2 separate regions of the Homo sapiens genome follow, and region 2 is linked to region 1. A link means that fine-mapping ties the variant in region 1 to the expression of a gene that starts in the linked region. Tissue or cell type: sigmoid colon. Region 1 holds a variant in brackets; the other region holds the start of a gene. All regions are shown on one strand. Distances are between the middles of the regions.

Evidence for each region. PIP is the estimated chance that this variant, and not a neighbour inherited with it, causes the effect.
Region 2: it holds the start of FREM1, and the variant in region 1 is fine-mapped to the expression of FREM1 in sigmoid colon (GTEx, PIP above 0.99).

What each region holds. Positions count from the first base shown.
Region 1 is chr9:14,841,802-14,849,910 of GRCh38, reverse strand. It overlaps FREM1 (FRAS1 related extracellular matrix 1), which reads left to right. Exons shown (of 37, transcript NM_001379081.2): 7 at 1,138-1,246; 8 at 3,820-3,951; 9 at 7,251-7,595. Among named protein-coding and RNA genes, the nearest start is that of FREM1, 65 kb to the left of the region's middle. The variant A/G (reference allele first, on the strand shown) is at 5,017.
Region 2 is chr9:14,907,085-14,915,193 of GRCh38, reverse strand. FREM1 (FRAS1 related extracellular matrix 1) reads left to right here and starts at 4,766. Exons shown (of 37, transcript NM_001379081.2): 1 at 4,766-5,280. RefSeq lists enhancers at 6,001-6,502, 7,452-7,992.

The DNA.
Region 1 (8,109 bases):
GTTAGGAAGTAATTTCTCATTGCACATCCAATCTTAGAGCACTGCTTTTCTGGCCTCTTCCTGTGTGTAGTTTCTGGCATTGTATAATGTACTCTTAAAGCAGAACCTGTGCGAATGTGTGATTTTTTTCGTTAGACAGTAACTCTCAATTTTTTCAGTGGAGATCACACAGTTTTCAGGTTGTGTGGACTGGAAGCCCTGGGCCAGGGCCCAACCGAATGCATTACCCCTCCAAAAAAGACACCTCCTGCCCATGTAGTTTCCTGTTCAGTCTGTTGCTTTGGCAGCCTTGAATCAGTTTCTTTTGTTATTTAGTGTTTGCTGATATAGTGCTGTTTGATTATTTATCTTATCCTCTTCCATGGACCACATGTTCTTCAAAAGTAGGGAGTATGCCTTGCATTTCTGTGTTATACCTCATTCTTCTCTGTCAACATCTGGTGCAATACATACACAGCACATAATAAAGATCAAAACTTATCACGCAGCCCCTACTTACTTATTAGTTATGAATTTCATGAAAGCAAATAAAGTTGAGATATTTAAAAATATGTCTAGTGAAATACATGTCTCTAGATCAGGGTTTCTTGATAGTAGCAGTACGACAATTGCCATTTTGTATCAGATAATTCTTTGTTTGGGAGGTTGTCCTGTGTACGGTAGGATGTTAGTATCCTGGCCTCTACCCACTCGATGACAATAGCATTTTCCCACACACCGACTTCTGAAATTAAAAATGCCTCCAGACATTCCCAAAAGTCCTGTAGTGGGACAACATCACCCCTAGTTGAAAACCACTTCTCTAGATCCTCCACCTTTGAGAAAGATTTAAGTGACTGAATGTGGGAAGGGGTTGGTCTCCTAAGCAAGTGCAGAGACACTTCTCCAGCATATTACCAATTTTAGATTAATAAATTCTTTTATGTAGAAGAAAATTTAAAAATACCGTTAAAGTAAGGAACAAGATCTAGAACCTGAAAAAGTCAAATCAGGATGTCTAAATGAGATGTGGGAACTGCAGAAATGTGAATCCCCGCAGAAAACTGAATCCACTGTGTGTGGGTATAACCCAGAATTAATGCTACTTTACCCTGTAACGCTTCAGTGTGTGGCTCCTTTGCCTCTGTTTGTTTACAGGTAGAATTGGAGGTATACGACTTCTTCTTTGAAAGGAGTGCACCTATGACAGTCCACATCTCCATCAGAACAGCAGATACAAATGCCCCCCGTGTATCCTGGAATACAGGTAAAGCTCAATATAAGGCATAGAGCAACATAGCCCTGAAGGGAATACAAGAAAGTAGATGGGTCAGGAAAGAAAGGTAGTTTTATTCCTATGTCATACATGTGGCAACTGAAACCCAGACAGATTAAGGGCATCACATAGTAGCTTTTGTTGTTGTTTTTTTATTCCTCCTGGCAGCGTGAGAAATTTAAATCCAGGATTTCTGCGTCCTGAGGCCAAGTTCTTTCCTCTGCCGGAGATAAGACAAAGGGACACTTTTCAACTGAATGAAGCAAAAAACTGACTATTTGTGATATTGAGCTGTAGTGGGACTGAAATCTCCAACTCAAATTGTTCCAAGGGATTGGAGAAAGGTTTAGCTTTTATAATCTATAGTCTATTTTTATGTTGGGCTGCATGGAAACTAAAATATGTAAATAAGAGCTTTAACTGCTTTAAAATATGGCTTTCTATGCCTCTCAATTCTGAGTGGACTTATGTGATATATATATGTATATGTTGATCAGATGTAAATGTGGAATGTAAATGGAGATCTTTTCCTTCTCACTGATCCCATCAATACCATTTGAAACATACTTATAAGCAGTGGTGGTAGATAGTATTAAGGAAAAAATATCTGTGTCTGATTTAAATCCTCAGGTGGCAGCTTAAACGAGCTGCCTCGTGTGTGTACACATAGATATGTGTTTGTATGTGTGTGAGTTTCAGCAGAGATAGAGAACATCAGGTGAGCAGCCTTGATTTATAATTCTGGCTATACATCCTACTGTACCTCTGTCAAGGGGGTAATGAGAGAAAAGATGGAATCAGTAACCTAAAGTTTAGGAATAATCACATGTTGCATGGGCTCCTGCCTGAGTGTAGAGATGGAATAGTCTGTACGTGTATGTGTGATCGGTGACACCCAGGTTTGCTCAATGTCATTTTGGCTGCTTTGAACATCAGAATCCCTTTTAAAATAAATGTTTGCTTATTATGAACTTGATCTGTGCCATCGTTGAAATTTGGAGAATGCATCTAAAATTATTATTTCGCCGTGAAGATATAACCAATGTTAATATTTTGCTGTATATATTTCTAGGCTTCTCGATTGTTCCTCTGCTGTGCTCCGTGATGCCTTGTCCTATGCACTCCTGGCTTCCAAACCCTTATTGCCAGTCACAGAGATTCTTCTTATGCACTTCTGTCCATTTCTTCTCCCTCCCACCCTCCCTCCCTCCCTCCCTCCCTCCCTCCCTTCCTTCCTTCCTTCCTTCCTTCCTTCTTTTTCTCTCTCCCTCTCCTTTATATATGTATTAGCCCAATTTCCCTAGAAAACAGACCCCGAGGCAGATCAGATGTACTAACCCTATACTAAAAGCAAGAGTAAGGGGAGAAGCAAATAAAAACGCATGGCTGAGCTGGTGTCACAGCTTTACAATAAGATAAAGCAGATTGCTCTGCAGTGTTGATGTCTCCAGGGAGAAGATGCAACTGCTGTGTCTGGTAAGAGTTGGAAGTGGGGTTGGGAAAAGGTCAACAATCTATTAATGGTCAGTTATTTCCCATCTCCTGTGTTTAATGGGTTAAAGTTTACTTCACTGGCTGTTAACTCCCCACATGCCCAGATTGTGTTATCTGGCCCCTCTTAGCAGCCATTGCACACACTTCCTGGGTCCCCTGGTGCAGGGCCTGATCAGCCACAAGGTTGGTCCTGCCGCCACTAGAGGGCAGTGGAGGTAGCCGGCTGCATCAGAAGATGAGGCAGTGGTGGCAGGAGGGCTTTACAATTTTGGAGACTGGGAACCCTCATGGGGCGGCTGCAGCTAGAGAACAGTCAGTTGGTCGAGGCCGGGATGGCAGGTGAAGCTGGCAGATGTGAGAGAAGCATAAGATAAGTCCAGCAGCACGCTACCTTGCAATTCGACCAGCTTGCTCTGCTCCCTTTCAGGATTATCTGTAATCTGTTGTAATATTGGAGTTAATAGTACTAAAAATAAAAATAGTACTAAAAATAAAAGCTACATTCCAGTTTCTTGAAAAGCTTTTATAGATGCAATATTCAGATGGTTTCATGAGTGGAAATTCACTCATCTTTTCTTAAGCAGGCACGTTGGCATGTCATAGAACTTGCCAATACCCTTTTCTTATCTTTTTTTAAAAAATTTAAGTTCTGGGGTATATGTGCTGAACGTGTAGGTTTGTTACATAGGTATACATGTGCCATGGTGGTTTGCTGCATCTATCAACCTGTCATCTAGGTTTTAAGCCCCTCATGCATTAGATATTTGTCCTAATGCTCTTTCTCCCCTTTCCCCTCTACCCCCGAACAGGCTCTGGTGTGTGATGTTCCCCTCCCTGTGTCCATGTGTTCTCATTGTTCAGCTCCCACTTATGAGTGAGAGCATGTGGTGTTTGGTTTTCTGTTCCTGTGTTAGTTTGCTGAGGATGATGGTTTCCAGTTTCATCCATGTCCCTGCAAAGGGCATGAACTCATTATTTTTTATGGCTGCATAGTATTCCATGGTGTATATGTGCCTCATTTTCTTTATCCAGTCTATGATACCAACACCCTTTTCTCCTTTCTTTCATAGGTCTGAGTCTCCTTGAGGGGCAGTCTCGAGCCATCACTTGGGAACAGTTTCAGGTTGTCGACAATGACGACATTGGTGCTGTCCGGCTAGTCACCGTTGGTGGCCTGCAGCATGGATGGCTGACTTTAAGAGGTGAATGATCCAACTTGGTAACCTAGCAAAGAATCCAAAAGTATTTTCTTCAAAAGTAGATATATTTAACAGATATATGTAGCATCTCTTGGGCCCAATTTCTCAATGAAATTGTCAAATGCAGAAAATCTGGAGATCTTGAAATCATTGACTTTTGTGTTCAAATGCTCAGATCAATGTCTAACCATTTATGAATGGTACCTTGTACGTGGCTCATTGTTTAAACCTCAGTTTTGCTTTCTGGATGCCATGCATGGCTTCTTGTAAGTATACTCCTTAACTAGTTATTTTTTTCCCAGTTGGAGGACAGAATGTTTTTTATTTCTCTGCTTCAAAGAAGTATATTGAAAAATTAGGCCGAGCGCAGTGGCTCACGCCTGTAATCCCAACATTTTGGGAGGCCAAGGTGGGTGGATCACCTGAGGTCAGGAGTTCAAGACCAGCCTGACCAATATGGTAAAACTCCGTCTCTACTGAAAATACAAAAATTAGCCGGGCATGGTGGCGGGCGCCTGTAGTCCCAACTACTTGGGAGGCTGAGACAGGAGAATTGCTTGAACCTGGGCGGCAGAGGTTGCAGTGAGCCAAGATCACGCCACTGCACTCCAGCCTGGGTGACAAAGCAAGATTCCATCTCAAAAAAAAGAAAAAAGAAAAAGAAAAATTAATGCTTAATTAATACTTTAGTAATAATGATGTTATGTTATTAGTAGTAGTTGTCATGGTTTAAAAGAAATAAATTTATAATTCTATGGGATGATAGTTAACAAGGTAATAATCTAATAAAAGTAATATTTACACTTTATGATAAAATAAGTCATTCCTTATAATGAACTCAGAGGATTTAATTCAATTATCTTCTTAGTTTCCCTAACTGTAATGCAGAAAGATAACTCTCACCATCATTTGTGAGCAGGGAATTCTGGAATCAAAAACAAAATAATAAATGTATGATAAATCCTCCTGCTTAATCTCAGGACAGTGGGAGGCCAGTTTAAATCTGGGTATACCAGTCAGGTTGGGTGTTCGCTTGTATGTAAGAGAAATCCAAGTGTAGTGGCTTGA[A/G]AATTAGTTATTTTCTTCATGTATTTGAGGCTTGAAGACCCAGAAGGAACAATGAAAGAAGTCATGATCTAAGTTTGCTGTATCTAACAAGTTTTCCTAGGAGCACAATACAACAATTTCCACTTAGATTTCTTTATCAAACTATGTCACATACAACTCCTCAGTGCAAGCAAGTCGGGAAGCCTGAGTATTTTTAAATGACCATATTGCTATGCCAAATACAACTAGGATTCTGGTAGTGAGGAAGAAGCATAAAGTGGATCTTGGTCAAGACAGTGTTAAATCGTTTATTCCTCTAAGGTCTTTAACACAGCCACGTGGTGTGAAGAGAATAATGGGGTGCACCTGCCATTAAGAATTGTAAGTCTCTGGCCGGGCACAGTGGCTCACACCTGTAATCCCAGCACTTTGGGAGGCCGAGACCGGCAGATCACTTGAGGTCAGGAGTTCAAGACCAGCCTGGCCGACATGGTGAAACCCCATCTCTACTAAAAACATAAAAATAGCCCGGCATGGTGGTGCGTGCCTGTAGCCCCAGCTACTCAGGAGGCTGAGGCAAGAGAATCGTTTGAACCCGGGAGGTGGAGGTTGCAGTGAGCTGAGATCACGCCACTGCACTCCAGCCTGGGCGACAGAGGGAGACTCCGTCTAAAGAAAAAAAAAAAAAAAGGAAGAGTTGTAAGTATCTGAAGAAAACAAAGCAATGTTTATTAATACTACAGCAATGAAATGGAGAGTGGGAGACCATAATGCATTGATGGTCTGGGTTCAGAGGAGACACAAAATAGTGTGATCATTTATTAAGCTTTACTTTGTGACAGACACTGTAGAAAGCATTCTGTATACTTTAACTTGTTATCTCATATCAACTTTATGATATTAGATACTATTATTATTCCCATTTTACAAATGGGTAACCTGAGACTTAGAACAACTGATTTATCTAAGGTTGCACACCTAGAAAATGGCAGAACTGGGATTTGAACCCAGACTGTTAGATATTAGAGCTCTAGCTCTTGGTCTTTGAGCCAGTAATTTTCAAATAGGCTTGATAACACTGGTTGTTGCCTCCCTCCCACCCACCCCTGAATTTCTGATTCAGCAGGTCCAGGGTAAGGCTTGAGAATTTGCATTTCTAAAACTTTCCAGATGGTACTGAGGCTGCTGGTTTGAGACCACTCCTCTAAGAACTGCTGCCATGTAAGATGGTAGCAATTAGCTGAAGAATAACCAACATTTATTGTAGGCTTACTGTTGCTTAAGTTCTCTCATTCTTGCTGTGGATTATGAGGTAAGTATTTGTATTAGTAAGGGTTCCCTAGAGAAATGAAACCAACAGAATGTCTATCTATGTATGTATGTATCTATCTGCCTACCTACCTACCTACCTACCTACCTATCTATCTATGAGGTGATTTATTCTGGGAATTGGCTTATGTAATTGCGGAGGCTGAGAGGTTCCTTGTTAGGCTGTTGGAGAACCAGGAAAGCCCAGGAAGTCATGGGTATTAGTCTGAAGGCCCGAGAACCAGGGAAGCTGATGGTGTAACCCAGTCCAAAGCCAAAGGCTTGAGAAGATGGGCAAGGGGAGTGGAGAGGGGTGAGTGGGGTAGGGAAGGTGGAGGGTGGAGGCACAAATGAGGGTGTTAGAGGATGGCTGGTTTATGTTCCAGAGTTCAAAGGCCCAAGAGCCAGGAGCTCCAGTGTCAGAGGGAAGAAGATGGAAGGAAGTCTCAGCTCCAGAAGAGACAGAGCATTCCCCTTTCCTCTTCCTTTTTGTTCTATTCAGTCTATCAATGGATTGGATGATGCCTGCCCACAATGATGAATGTGATCTTTTCTCAGTCTGCTGATTCGAATGCTAATCACTTCAAGAAACACTGCTTCACAGAACCACCCAGCAATAATATTTTACCAGTTGTCTGGGCATTCCTTAGCCCAGTTAAGTTGATGGAAAAAGTTAAAACCATCACAGTAGTATTATCCATGTTTTATAGATGAGTTTCATAAATTAAATACCTTGCTCAAATCTGCACAACTGATAAATGTTGGAGCCAGTATTCAAAACTAGATATGTTCTCCCAGAACCCACTAACAATCTGTAGTTTTTCCAGGTGAGGGAAATACGGGCTGCACACTTTCCTTAGCAGCCTCTACTGTATTGATGCTTTCCCCACAGCTGCTGCTTCTGCACTCCCTTGCTCAATCTGCTCCATCTCTGCTCTCTCCCTCAGGGGGGAAAGGGTTTCTCTTCACCGTGGCTGACCTCCAGGCTGGAGTTGTTCGCTATCATCATGATGACAGCGACTCCACCAAAGACTTCGTGGTCTTCCGGATATTTGATGGCCATCACAGCATCCGTCACAAATTCCCCATCAACGTCTTGCCCAAAGATGATAGTCCCCCGTTCCTCATAACCAATGTTGTGATTGAACTGGAGGAGGGGCAGACCATCCTGATCCAGGGATCCATGCTGCGAGCTTCAGATGTGGACGCCAGTGATGACTACATCTTCTTCAATATCACAAAGCCTCCACAGGCTGGGGAGATCATGAAGAAGCCAGGGCCAGGACTGATAGGTAAGTTCTGGGCAGTTAAGATCATTTGAATGGAATTCACTCTTCCATAGAGAACCTTCTATGCATCCTTCTGGGTTTGCTGAAATTGTGTCCGAGTTTGTCCTAAGGTGAACATCAAGTTTCTGAAGTAAGATAGTATTTTTATTCCCATTTCATAATGAGGAAGCCTGAGATTTAGGAAAGTTAATTTGATCTGTCCAAGGTTGTGCATCTACAGATTTCCAGAGCTGAGCCTCAAAGTAACCATTACACTATGAAAAATTAAGTCAGCCGAGCAAGGTGATAGAACAAATTAGTCTAAAAGGAGATTTTTTGACTATTCTAGATTATTGATAATTTCATGAATAACATTTGTTTACATTTTGTTAGAATCATTTTGTAACTACTTCTTAAAGTAGGTAGATCCGGAGTTTGACAAAATAGGGATCAAGTAAGTAGTTAGTGTTACTTTGTATATTTGAAATAAGAGTAAGTTTCTTGAAAATATTTTTCTAATGCTAATTTTTCCATATAT
Region 2 (8,109 bases), 65 kb before region 1:
AAGAATGTCAGGTATAAGACTTTTTGTACACATATGAGAATCTAAGTGTAACTCTAGAAGTTAAAATGCCTAATTTAAGGTTTTTGGAATATTTACTTTTACTAGAAATGGTCAGACTACTTTCTAAGTGTTTGTGTCTATTTAAAACTTCCAGTAGCAACTAAGAGTTTTCCCCCCGCTTATCTTTTACCAGATTTAATTTATTTAATTTACCAGATTTAATTTATTGTAAGATTTTAAACGTTTTATTTATCTGAGAGAGTCTCATTTTTAGTCTCCATTTGTACTGGCCTGATTGTTTGTGTAATTGGATGCTTTCATGTATTTATTAGCCATTTGTGTGTCTTCTCCTTTAATAAAAGGAGAATATTAAGATTTTTTTCTTAATGATTTGTATAGGCTTCAGAAGCTTCTTTAAATTTTGAGCATAAAGATTTTGTAATTTATTTTCATTTTCAGTACCTTCTCCCAATTTCTGTTTTTTTTTTTAAAAAAAAACTTTTAAGTTTTTGCTCCATGGGAAATTTTAATTATTATATAAAATATATCAAGTTTTTCTTTTATAGCCTTTACTTATTGTATCACACTTAAGAAATTTTCCCTTGATATTAAGAAGATATTCCTTGATTTTTTTGGTTCCAAAAGTTAAAGGCTTTGTTATCAAATTAAGATACTCAAATCAACTGCAATTTGTTTTGGTGTATAGTATGAGGTAAAGATCTAATGTTTTTTGATATATGATATGAAGTAGAGTTCTGATGCTATGTTTTCCATATGGATAACCTATTGTCCTGTCAACGTATTATTGATTGTCTATTATTTCTTCACTGACTTCTATTCTGACCTTGGTCATACACCAGGTTGCTATATGTGAGTGACCTGCTTCCAAGCTTTTCTAGACTCTTTCTTTGCCTTCTATCACTGTGAAAATTCCACAATTTCTTAATTGTTAAAACTTTATAATATAAAATATCAATATTTAGCAGGGAAATTAATCATTAAATGTATCTTCTTCAATTTGTCTTGGCCATTCCTGGTTTTTATTCTTTTAGATAAATTTTAGTATCAGCTTGTCATTTTATATATATATATATATATATATATATATATATATATACACACACACACATACACACACACACACAAAATATATACAAATATATAAATACATATAATTTATATATTTCATAGTATATATAATATACATATATAACATATATGTACATAATGTGTATATGTGTACACATATTTATATAAAATGCCTTGTTGGCATTCCAATTGACACTGCATTGAAATTTTAATTTTGGGAGAATTGACATTTTTACATTATTAAGTCTTCTCAACCAGTTTGATATTATCTTCCCATTTATCTAGATTTTTTATGCCCTTTATTAATTTTTTATTTTCTTCATGAAATTTTACCCAAATTTAATTAATTTAGATGAATTACCAGGCTCATTAAAGTTTTGCTGCTATTATAAAAGCTGTCTTTTAAAAAGTATTTTCAGTAATTAGTTGTTACTTGTATATATGAACGCCATCTATTTTTGTATGTTGACCTTATGTCCAACAAACTTGCTGAACTCTTTGAATAGTTCAAACAGTAAATTCTTTTGCATATTTGTACAGAGACTCTTATCTTTTGCAAATAATGAAAGGTTTATTTTTCCTTTTAAATTTTTATGCCTCATTTTTTTATCTTGACTTACTGTGTTGGTTAGGATCTCCTATCCAATGTTGAATTGTGGAGATTGGAGTAAGATGTCTTTAATTGGATTTAGGAACTTCCCTTCCAGACCTAGTTGGCTAATAGTTTTCAGTTTTTGGTTTTTTAATGAATGAGTATTAAATTTTACTGAATGTCTTTTTTCTGCACTTATTAAGATAGTCATGCCTTTTTTCCTTCTTTAATATATTAAACTGCTAGATGTTCTGATTTTGAAACATCCTTGCAATCCTGAAAGAAAAATTCATCGCTATTGGTCATGTTGTCTTTTAAAAAGCAGAGCTGAATTTGATTTGTAAATTAGTTATTTAGGATTTTGCATTCATGTTGACAGTCAAATTGGCCGGTAGCGCTCTCATGGCAAGCAGAGCACGCTGCTCTTGTGCCCTGCTCAGGGGTGGTTTTATTTCCTGATAACCCCTAATCACGTTGTCAGCTCCCAAGTCTGAGGTCAGCAAGGCTCTTCCTATAAACCCTCTCATCGGCTGTGTTATTGCTCTTTTCTGGTACACAGAGGTGTTTGTATTGCTTTTCTTTATTTATTTGTTTTCATGTTTATTATTTCAATTGTGGTATGTATAACCTTTCTATTCCTGGACTCATCCTCTTCTCTTGCCATAGTATTGCTTCCCATGGCCATCTAGTGTTAGAGACTCAGTGGAAAACTATCTTTACGTTGCAATAGATAACACTTCTGTCTGCTGCCATCGTCAAAATTTAATAGGCACATTCCTAATTTTTTATATGAATTGTTGGTGAAGGCATTGGCTATGCCTTTCAGAGAATGCTACATTCTACAGCAATTCAACAAAAATCATTCATATTTACAATCCAAAATGATATGCCAATCTCCAACACACATTTGATATTTTTCATTATCACTCCAACTAGGGCTAGAAGTAAAATGATTTCTTTAAAAATGAATTTTGTGCCAGCACTAAGTTCAGCAGCACATGCTTTTAGGGGAAGAATTCTTTGTTGTTTCTTTGACTAGTTCTTTTTAAATTCCCTAGCTTGGCATTTCAATCTGTTCAAACAGTATTTTATTGATTGAAGTTGATAATTGTATTATTTCCAGGCCCTTATTCATTTGTGGCAGATAGAAGGAATGACATTTGTATAAACAGGTACTTCAGATTTCAGGACATTTTGACTGATCTAACTCTTAACTGCCTATTTCAGAATATGTTCAGCACAGTTAGGCCAAGCTTCATGTATATAATTAACTTTGGAAAGATTATATCTCCTGCGGACTTTTTGAAATACTTTACAATCTAAGTTTGTTATTTTTTGCTTAGCATGCTTAAGTTATTTTTCCCATAGAAGTGATATAAAGACATTTATCTCTGTTTCTAGACTAATCTGTAAACCTTATTTAGCTCTTAATCTATCTATAAACTTTATAATCTATCTATAAACTAATCTATAAACCTTATTAGTTTCTAGACTAATCTATAAACCTTATTTAGATGTTAGAATAAGCATGTTGATGCAACCGTTTGTACATAGTATACAATTCCTTTGTCAAATGGAATCCGAGTCTCAACTAACAGCTTCTAAAACCATCTTCATTTCTTTGCAGGTAAGATATTCACAACCTGGGCAATTTTGAAAATCAGTTGGGGAATAAAATTGTCTATTATGCTGTGTTTCTTAACTGTCATTATTAAGGCTTTATTTCTTGCCTTTTCAGGATTAATATATGACTCACACATTGTCACTATATTTATTTAATAATAACTGTGTTTAGTAAATAATATCTGTTCACTTATAAAGAGCTTAGTGATTCTTAACTTTCACCTACTTATTCTCAGAGCAAATAAAATGAATCAAGAAATTCTTGAAGATTTGAAATCTCCGATGACTTTGAGTAAGTGTATATGCACCATTCATTGCTAAAGTAACCACAAAGCATGTTTTTAAAATACATAATTTTTTTCTCCCTTCTTATGCATTCTTTTCTTCTTTACATTTTTCTCTTTTCTTTCTTCCTTCCTCATGTAATTTTCTTCTCCTTTTTCATTTTCCTCTCTCTTTTCCTTATGGCTTCCAAAGAAAGGCATATGGTGTTGTGACCTTGTTACGGGAAACCACATCTAGGTTGAATTGGATTCACAGTGTTCTATATTTTTGGCAAAGGTTTAGGATAGCCAGACATGTCTTAATATAAACAGTTCCCCCAAAGTGAGTTAATACTTCAAATTCTCTCTTTATGGTTAATTTAGAAGGCCAGATGGTAGGCCATTATCTTTTTTTTTCCTGGTGGGAATAAAATACAGGAAAGCATTTTATTAAACAGTTGTTAAGGATTAAGACTTTCACAGACCACTGAATACTGACAAGTTAACTATGTGAATCTCTGTTGAGAGGACAGTTCTTGGCCAGTGATATATCTGCATTATTGGGATCACGCACTATATGCAAATGGATCAGATTAATGGGATTTTTATGGGTTTTCGAAAAGAGCCAGACACACAAAAAGCCTTACAAATGGAAGAACTAAGGTGGTACTTAAAAACAGCACCTTAGGATCTAGTTCCATCCTATCTTTTCCCTTAAATGCCATGACAAAAGTTAAAACGGGCCCTGTCCCTTCTGAATGCTGGGCTTCTCATCTAAATTTAAATAAAAACCTTTGAAGATGGGAATGTGTTGGAAGAAAAGAAGGGCAGAAAAAAAGTGTGTTGGAAGAGTCTGTGTGAGTATGTACATGTGTGGGTGTGGGCATGTGCGGCCTGTGCGTATGTGTGTGCCCCCGTGTGTGTGTGGAGCATGCGTGAGAATGCATGCACATGTGTGGGGTGGGTCACTATGTGTGCATGCATGTGAAGGCATTTGCCTGTGTATGTGTCTGTGTGTGGTGATTGTGTGTCTATCGTGTTTGTATGTGTGCCTGTGTGTGTACCTCTGTGAGTGGGTGTGTCTGTATGTGACTGTGTGCCCATTTGTGAATGTGTGTGTGCCTGTGTCTGAGTGTGTGTGTGCCTGTGTGCTGCAGGCGGGAGAGGCTGCTCTGGCTCGGCGAGTGGCGGAGCAGTTAGTACAAAACTAGTAGTGAGAAAGGAAGCTGGGAAGAGACTGGGAAGAGGCAACCGACCTCATTAACAAAAGCTCAGTTTTGTCCCTGCGGACCCAACCAGCAGAAGGCACGGGGCTAGCGGTGGCTGTCCGCCAGGGAGGTCGGGCTCTGTGTAAACAGTAGAAGGCATCTTTATCATGCCCTTCTCACAGGGAGTCCTGAGGCTTGGCGCTCAGGAAGTTTGCAAAGCTGCAGCAGCTGCCTTGGAGAAGACCAGCAAAGAAAGTGGAGTGTGTATGTGAACTTCAATTCTGTATTTTCTGTGAGGTGGGTTAATGGATTTTTAGTAAAAAGAAATCTCAAACACAGCTGACCTGAAAGACTGGAATTTCAGCTCTCTTCCTTCCCGGGGTTCTTTTTCCTCCCCCTTCCTCTCAAAGCCCTTTAAACCAGATTGCTGTGTCAGTGACTCTTATCCTGCCCGCCAGTTCCAAGGGTTTCTAACTTTTTGTCTTGGAAAGGAAAACCACTACCTGTAAGTATCTGTTTTATGTGTTTCTTTTCATTGTGACTGTGAATGTTCTGTTAGCAGAATGCCCCAGAGATTGTTTGTGTGATATCATTAATGCCAAGTAACAATGCAAAGCATCTGCAAGAGTAGGCTTGCAAAAGTTTAACTCTCCTGTTAACTCAGAAGATGGCAACTTGCAGTGTTAACAAACCAAATGCCAAAACTGAGATTCTTTTTATTACGTGACACAAATTTCTAACTCTTCTCAGTCCATCCGTGCTGGCACTTGCCAATGAAATAACCATTTTTTAACTGTGTAATTGTTTCCTCTGAAATTAGAATGTTTCTTCTCAGCTAAATGAAATGGCAAAGGGAAAAGACACAAAAATGAACAGAACAGATAATATCCTCATGGTACAAACATAGAGAAATTTGGATGAGATAATGTCTGGATACCTTTGCTTAAGTTTAGTTATATTTGGAGACATATTTTCAAAAACATGATTTCTGTTTCATTGTGGGGAAGAGAGATAGTGCTGGGGAGGCAAAGAAATGGCCTTGTTCTGAAGTTTTTGGACTGATTTTTAGGCTCTCTCTGCTCAGTACTGAGATTTGGTCCAGAGACTTTGGTGCTGTTGTAAAGAGTTTCTTTTCATTTTATTTTGAAATCCAGGAAACAATTTTTGGCTTATGGAAATTGTTTATTGTTTTTAAGGTATTTAATTTTAGTTTCTGATTTTTTTTTAAACTATTGCACCCAGTCTTGTTGCTTGGTGTGCATTACAAAGCTTAAAAAGAGCATTTCTGGGAGCCAATTGGTGTTTATAGCCTGGGAATCTTACTGGAGAGATTAACCTCTGTGGTGCTGCTTCACAGAACAGAGCTAGTGATTCGAATGCTCTTCAGGTTTCTGCTCTGGAAAACTGACACCCGCTGTTCCTGACTCTAGGTAAAGCTTGAAGAGCTGTGCCTCAGCCCCCTGCTTACATTTGATAAAGGTGCCTTCAGTGCAGCTCTAGGAAACTTTGCTGTTTCTCTCCATCAGGCATTCTCAAAACTGACTGTGTGTAAGAACCCCCATTTGCTTGGTGAAAGGCAGGTTCTCAGTTCCCAGGCCCAAAGGATTTTAGACCTGGAGTGGTGCCAGGAATCTTCCCAGGTGATTCTGAAGCAGGTGGGTCACACTTGGGTAAACATTGCTCTACATTGTCCTTGACATGAAATTCTTGTCATGTACTTGGTTAATATTAAACCTTATATCTAAATAAGAAACCTGAGTTTGAGCTGTTGTTGAGCATAACTTAATGTGCAACATGGTTTTGCATGCTTGGCTGGCAAACCAGGGCTTTTTAATCAGTTTTCCACCAACCTCATCTTTTTTTTTTCTTGCTTCCCTTTTCATCTCTGCCTTTTCATTCCCACGAGGGAAAAAAGGAGTTGGGCAAAGGGACCTGACTACCATGTTCCCTGCTTTCACATGTTGGGCTATATGGCCTGATCTGCCCCCGCATGGCTAAGCAATGTTTGTTTTGGAAACTTTAAACCCAGGACTGTTCTTAATTCTTTCCCAGCCTCCTGGGGCTGCTGGGCTGTAGGGGTTGGGCGAGGCTGAGTTTGGGTAAACTGAGCTTGATTTCATGGAATGGTTCAGGAGCCTCATTCCTAGAAAATGATTTTTGGATTGGACCATCCCACAGGGATGAGAAGAAACAGAAAATGATTCTTCCATGGTGTTAAAATTCTCATTTCACAATATGTGAAAGTCAGAGCTCAGCTTCCATCCCCATCCTTGCATTTTCTGGCGTTTAATATTTATATTAAAAAGAAAACTGGACATGGCCATCAGAGCCCCTTGCTTTCTTTTCTTTCCTCATTCCAAACATTTAGGTGCACCTGCTACATGCCAGGCTCTGTGATAGTTTTTAAGGATTTCAGAATGCCCACTGGGGATGGCATGCACAGGCAGGGTCCTTGTCCTCATGGTGTTTCAAATCTTAGTTGTTGCTAACCAGCCTTGGAAGAGCCATCTAACCCCTCAAAGCTTCACTTCCTCATCAGTAAAATAAGTTGAATTAAATGAGTTTTGGTATCTTCCTAGCTCTGATATTCTGACATTGATGGATATGACTCAGTCTTCTAAACACAGATATGGGCTATGAGAGCTTTTCAGCATTTACTCTGAGAATAGGCCTAAAGATTTCGCTAATTGCTTTTCTTCAAAAATTTTCAGATGTATTTTTTTCTCTCACAAAGCACCATGACCACAGGAATATTGAGTTAGACAAGTGTAATCTTTTCAGGGCATGTAGCCATTCCTTACAATGGGATCCCGTAACTCCCTGGAAAGGCTGTTTCCCTGCGCCAGGTTACATAGGAGGGCAGCCTCTTATCTTGTCTGAATCTGATGTCGCTACTCCTTTGGAGAGCTGGGTGGTCTGAACAGGGCTTGACAGCTTCCACACATGCACAGCTTGCAACCTGACCCTTTCATTCAAGTGATTCAACAGCTTTTGTGCTACCAGGTGAGAGGCTTAAACAGACATCTTTGAGGGGCCGAGCGAAACAAAAAACAAAGCAAAACCCACTCCCTAATGAAATACTGTCTATACTATATTTTGTCTGTAATGCAGCTTCTCTCACTGCAGTGACTGGGGCACCATTTCAAAGGGCTCTAAAACTTGGCCATCAAGATAAGAAATTATAGGTGTGATTTATGTGCTTTTTGACAACATAGCCTCTAGCTGTCTGAAGATAATATGTTTGAGTGGAAAACTATTGACTGGAGGACAGGGATCTTGCTAAGTTAGAATATTTTTAAACAAATGTTCTTTGCCTCTCATGGGTAAGTTTTTA